Regions from separate parts of the Homo sapiens genome. Here region 1 is linked to region 2. The links come from fine-mapping of genetic effects on gene expression. A gene starts in region 2. The other region holds a variant in brackets. All regions are shown on one strand. Distances are between the middles of the regions.

What was found. PIP is the estimated chance that this variant, and not a neighbour inherited with it, causes the effect.
Region 1: its variant is fine-mapped to the expression of TMTC4 in whole blood (INTERVAL, PIP above 0.99).

The regions. Positions count from the first base shown.
Region 1 is chr13:100,724,945-100,727,963 of GRCh38, reverse strand. All of the region lies in intron 1 of NALCN-AS1 (NALCN antisense RNA 1), which reads right to left. Among named protein-coding and RNA genes, the nearest start is that of NALCN-AS1, 18 kb to the right of the region's middle. The variant TTTG/G (reference allele first, on the strand shown) is at 1,453.
Region 2 is chr13:100,673,736-100,676,495 of GRCh38, reverse strand. It overlaps TMTC4 (transmembrane O-mannosyltransferase targeting cadherins 4), which reads left to right and starts at 1,701. Exons shown (of 19, transcript NM_032813.5): 1 at 1,701-1,752. RefSeq lists enhancers at 1,031-1,110, 2,436-2,760 and silencers at 1,301-1,800, 1,831-2,190, 2,241-2,320.

The sequences.
Region 1 (3,019 bases), 51 kb before region 2:
GAACAAGGCAAGACCCTGTCTCTACTAAAACTATAAAAATTAGCCTGGCATGGTGGTGTATGCCTGTCGTCCCAGCTACTTGGAAGGCTGAGGTACGAGAATCGCTTGAACTCATGAGGTAGAAGTTGCAGTATGCTGAGATTTCACCACTGCACTCCTGCCTGGGCAACAGAGCAAAACTGTGTATCAAAAAAAAAAGGGTCAGGATGCTGGTTATCCTTGGAATGGAGCAGGGAGTGACTGGAAAGGGGACAGGAGGCTTCTGGGAGTCTGGTAATGCTTTGTTCCTTAATCCGGGTGCTGGTTATACAGGTGTGCTCAATTTGTAGAAATTCATGAACCGTACACTTATGCTTTATTCACTTTTCTGTATGTGAGTTATAATATAATAACATCATTATTTAAGATGTCAATATAGCCTTTATGCATTATGGATATTTGTACAGTGTTATTTATCTTTCAGATATTTTTCTCGCTCTGACAGTTGTACTTTAACTGCTTTATAGAAAACTGGACAAAATTGACAAGAAGGCAATTCAAAGAGGGTGCCATACATTAAATAGCCAAACAAACATGAAACGACATGCAGTTTCACTGCTAACCAGGGAAATGCAAATGAATACAACATATAACTCTTTCACTCAAATTGGAAAACTTTCTAAAGGTTTATAACATACACTGTTGACAATGAGAATAGGGAAAGAGGCATGCATATGATTTTGGTCAGGGTATAAAATAGTACAGAATTGCTGAAAGGCAGGGTATTAGTCCATTTTCATGCTGATGACAAAGACATACCCGAGACTGGGTAATTTATAAGGAAAAAGCGGTTTAATGGAGTTCCACGTGGCTGGGGAGGCCTCACAATCATGGCTGAAGGCAAAAGGCACATCTCACATGGCAGCAGACAAGAGAAGAGAATGACAGCCCAGCAAAAGGGGTTTCCCCTTATAAAACCATGAGATCTCGTGAGACTTATTCACTACCATGAGAACAGTAGAGAGAAACCGCTCCCATGATTCAATTATCTCCCACCAGGTCCCTCCCACAACACAAGAGAATTATGGGAACTACAATTCAAGATGAGATTTGGGTGGAGACACAGCCAAACCATATCAGGCAGCTTGGGAGTCTTCTGACATTCTTGAGCCGCTGAATTTAGGTAACCAACCATCTATCTGCAAATCTCTAGAGAAGAAAATAAACCCTAATAATTTTTTTAATCTCAATATAGATACCCCCATCTCCATCCAAATTCATACCTTGTGAATTCAGGAACCAAATAGACTCAGAGTTTGGGTAAATCCCTCATTATCTGAACTCTCGCTACACAGCATCCAAAATTTAGAAATTGAAACATATTATATTTACTATTAATATTATTCAAACATTACATTCTTTTGAACCATTTAAACTTACAGTCAAATTTTTTTTTTTTTTTTTTTTTTTTTT[TTTG/G]AGACAAAGTTTCATTCTGCCACCCAGACCGGAGTGCAGAGGTGCAATCTAAGCTCACTGCAGCCTCCACCTCCTGGGTTAAAGCTGTTCTCCTGCATCCACCTCTTGAGTAGCTGGGACTACAGGCACCTACCACCACACCTGGCTAATTTTTTGTGTTTTTAATAGAGATGGGGTTTCACCATGTTCACCAGGCTGGTCTCAAACTCCTGACCTCAGGTGATCCGCCTACCTTGGCCTCGCAAAGTGCTGCGATTATAGGCATGAGCCACTGCGCCCAGCCTTACAGTGAATATTTTTAAATGCCAACTTAAAAATGTACAATGGGGAGGTGGTGTAAATTTTTGAAAAAATCTTTTAAAGCAAAAATTTTTGAAGAAAGCAGTCTTAACATGCCTCTTTTGAAATATATTCTTCAAGCAGACCAAAAATAAGCAAACAAAAATCCATAGGAGTTTATGTACACAATTAACAAGACTAAACAACTAACGTTCTCTGTTTCCGAAAGCAGAGAATATGCATTTTTTTCAAATACCCACTTCATATCTTGAAAAAATAGCCCTATTACAGGCCACACAAAGCTCAAAATAGTTCAAAAAATTGATATCATACTTTCCCAATCACTCCCCACGAAATAATGTTTTAGCCCCAACATATTTTTGCCTGGAAATGTTTAAACACGCATATACAAAGCCTTGAATTAAAGAGGACATCAACAGAGAGGGAAAAAAAGAAACTAACATTTCTTACACTTCTCATGTGCCTGTGGGGTTCCCCTGGGTCTCCCCACGTTGACACCCAGCTGCCACACTTGCCATGCCCCCTCCACTGAGAGCACCTCCCTGTGGCCAGGGCTCTCCCCACCTCCCCCAGCCAGTGTAACTAGCAGGCAAAGGCACCCAAGAGGCAGGGCTGCAGCACATTGCTTGGGCCCTCCGCACGCTCCCAGATAACCTTCTTAAGGGGCTCTGCTGGTGGAAATTCCTGTCCTTCTATGACGAATTAGTGCTGTCTTACTGTTACACACTCGATGTCTGTAACCCCTCCTTTCTTTTGGTTATGAACTCCTTTTCAGTTGCCTCCAGAAAGATCTTAGTTCATTTTTTTCTTGGACTTCATATTTTTCCTCAGCCTAAATTTTCTGATGAAAAAATCTCTTTTTTGTTTTATTATAAGGCTTTGGCTTTTGGCTCTTGTTTAACTGGCTTGATGGTATATAGCTCCTCAAATCATCTTTGGAAATAGATATGGTATAAATATAAAATACGTATACAAACAAATAAAACTTAAAGGGTGAAATTTTCAGGATAGGCTGGAGATCGTCAAAGGTGATATTTTTTGGCAGCTAAGCTCTTGATGAATTGTAGAGTGACCATCTCCCCGACCACTCTGTACAAGAAATTTCCTCCATTCAGAAACAATATAGATTGAACACTGAGAAAACCTTGAATACGGTTATCTCCTGTCCTGAAGATGGTTCAAAACTGCGAAGGAAGAAATGCCTCTTCTGGAAAACTGAGAGTTTAATATTCTACAGACAACCCTGTTGGGGACCCCACAGCAA
Region 2 (2,760 bases):
ACCATGGCCCATTACAGTCTACCAACGAGACATCACTGAGTGTGGGCCGGGAAAACGCACGTGCAGTAAGCACATTATGATACGTAATACTGGAAATGGTAGGAAGTGGACAGACTTCAGAGTTATTTAGGAAGTAGAATCTTGGCGATTTGTTAGATGCCGAGGTGAAGGCAGAGTTTGGGAAACACTGGATAGTGGTGTCTTCACTATCACAGGGAGACAGGGAGTTGAAAGCAAGCAGGGAAAGGACGCATTCAGTTTTGGATGGGTTCCATTTGAGGTGCTTGTTACCAGGAGTAGCTGAATAGGAAGCTAGATAAACGGATTTGGAGCTCAGAGGAGCAAAGATTAGAGTTGCAAATTTGGGATATATTGATTTAAATGTTGACAGCAGGTTAAATCATTCAGGGAAAAATTGTGGAGTAAGAGGAAAGGTCTGAGACCTTGAAAACTCTGTTATTTGGTGGTCACCCAGAGTAGACAAGCACGCCAAGACTGGGGACAGACAGGAAAGTGGAGCACCCCCGCCACAGGAAGACGTGTTTTAAGGAGAAAGAAGGAATTTTGCTCAGATCAGTTAACACGAGAAAGGAGAGTGTCCTTTGACTTTAGTGATGTGGATGCTACTTGCGACAATTAAAAAGGCAATTTCACCGAGTGTGAAAACGAACACGTGGAGTTGAGAGACCACAAAACTGGGGGCAGGCGCCTCTTTCACCAACTTCAGCGATGGAAAGTAGAAGAGGGTGGCAGCAAGGGTACGTGGAGTAGAGAATCTTGGAATGATGAAATGCCGAGGATACGGATTCCAGTCCAGAGGGAGCAACGGATCGGATTCTGCGATACTGGAAAAACAGAAGGTGGGGGGGGGGGCTCGGTGATGGAGGGAGCAGGTGTGCAGTTTTGCCGGTGGAAAGTGGAAGTTTCTCTTTTCTCCTGAAGCAGGCGGCAAAGACCTCTGAGAGTGGGAGTGTGGTGGGTGTGCCGGGCCCCTGGATGGGAGTGGAGGTTTGGAACCAAGTGGCCCGAGCCTGCGGTGAGTGGGCCCGCCCTGGGTGGCTCTGGCCGCAGCAGGGTCGATGGGGCGGCATGGTCTCGGCGGGAAGAACACGGCTTCAGTCAGTTCTGTTCTAAGAAGCAGAAGGTGGAGATACGCATGTTTTAAACAACTCCTCCCGGACAGGAAGAAGTGGAGTTCTGGCTGTTCTGCGAGGACGCCGCAGTCCCAGCGTGGAGACCACCGCGCAGGCGAAGCGCGAGACAGGCCAGAAATAGGGTCCCGCGCGCGGACCCCGGAGGAAAAGCGAGGGCTCACTCGGTTTCCCGCAGCCAGCCTCGCCCGACCCAGCTGGGGCCGCCCCTTCCCGCCCCGGCCCCGCCTCCGCCTCAGCTCCGCGCCCACAACCCGGCTTCCTCCTCTCCCGCCGGGTCCGTCTGTCCCTGCGCCTCCTTCGCCGCCGACTAGCGCCCCCTGGCCTGACGTCACCGGCGCGTCCGCCAATGAGCTGAGGAGGGACTTGGCTGTGGCCTGAAAGTGACGGGAGCAGCAGCCAATGGTCGGGCGGAGGGGGCGGGCCGAGACTGGTGCTGGGGGGCGCCCGCGCGCGTGGGGAGCTGCGGGAGGCGCGGCGCGGGGGGGGTCGGGTGCGCGGCGGGCGGCCCCTCCCCCTGCCAGGTCCGGGCGGGTGCCTGGAGCCGCCAGAGTTTCCGCACCCGGGAGGGAGATGCGGCCGGGGCTCAGGCTCCTTGCAGGTAACGCGCGGGGCGGCCCCTGCAGGGCCGAGCGCGCCGCGGGGCGAGCGGAGTTGGACGCGGAGCGGGCGCGGGTTCCCCGCTGCCGCCGTGTCCCGAGCCCCGCACGGCGGCCCGGGCCAGAGCGGCGCTGCTGGAGGAGTTGGTTCCGGGACCTGAGCTGCGGCCCGGGCCGGGGTCACGGGGGACGCGGGCCCCTGTGTGAGCCGCACATGGGACAAAGGGCGCGGCGTGGAGGCTGCGCGCCCCGCCCGCCGCGCTCGGGCCCCTGAGCTTCTCCGCCCGGGCAGAGGTCGCCGCCCCCAGCCCCTGCCTGCACAGCCGCGCCGGCGCTCCCTCGGCCCGGGCGCACCCGGCGCCTGCGGCGCGTCCCCGGAGCGGCCATCTGGCCGCGGGGCCCCGCGCCTGGCCGCCAGCTGGCCGCGGCGCAGGCGATGGCTGGACACAGCCGGGCCGCTTGGCCGCCTGCCCTGGGTTCCGCGGCGGCTCCCCCGCCGCGCCGCGAGCGCCTGCTACTCCACGCTCGGCTGCGGAGCGGAGCGGCGCGAGCGCGGGGCCACCGGCCCGGGCGCCCGGGGCCACCGAGCCGCCGCTTCCCGGCGTGGGCTCGGAGTTTGGGGAAGCCGAGCAGGTGGCGCAGCCACTGCCCACCTCCTGCGAACTCTGCGGGGCTTCTGGTCTTGTTGATGTTGTGGCTATGGGCTGCGTGTGTGTTTTTCTTTTTTTTAAACCACACACAAAAGAAGGGAGGAGTTAGAGGAACGATCTAGCCACTATGAGTCATCCCACACTTCGCTCTTTCCCCGGGAGAGCAAATAAATGCATGGGGAGAATGTCTTGAGAAACAGTTATAGTAGGGACTGACTAGGTCCCCTCCCTGTCCCTTTTCTCTGCAGTCCTGTCTGCGCCGGGCGCGCCCCAGATGGAGTGGGGTAAAATCACGGCCAGTGCACCTAGATAGGGGAAATGGCTACAAGCTAGCAAACTGGAAACTTTCTGGGACAGTGG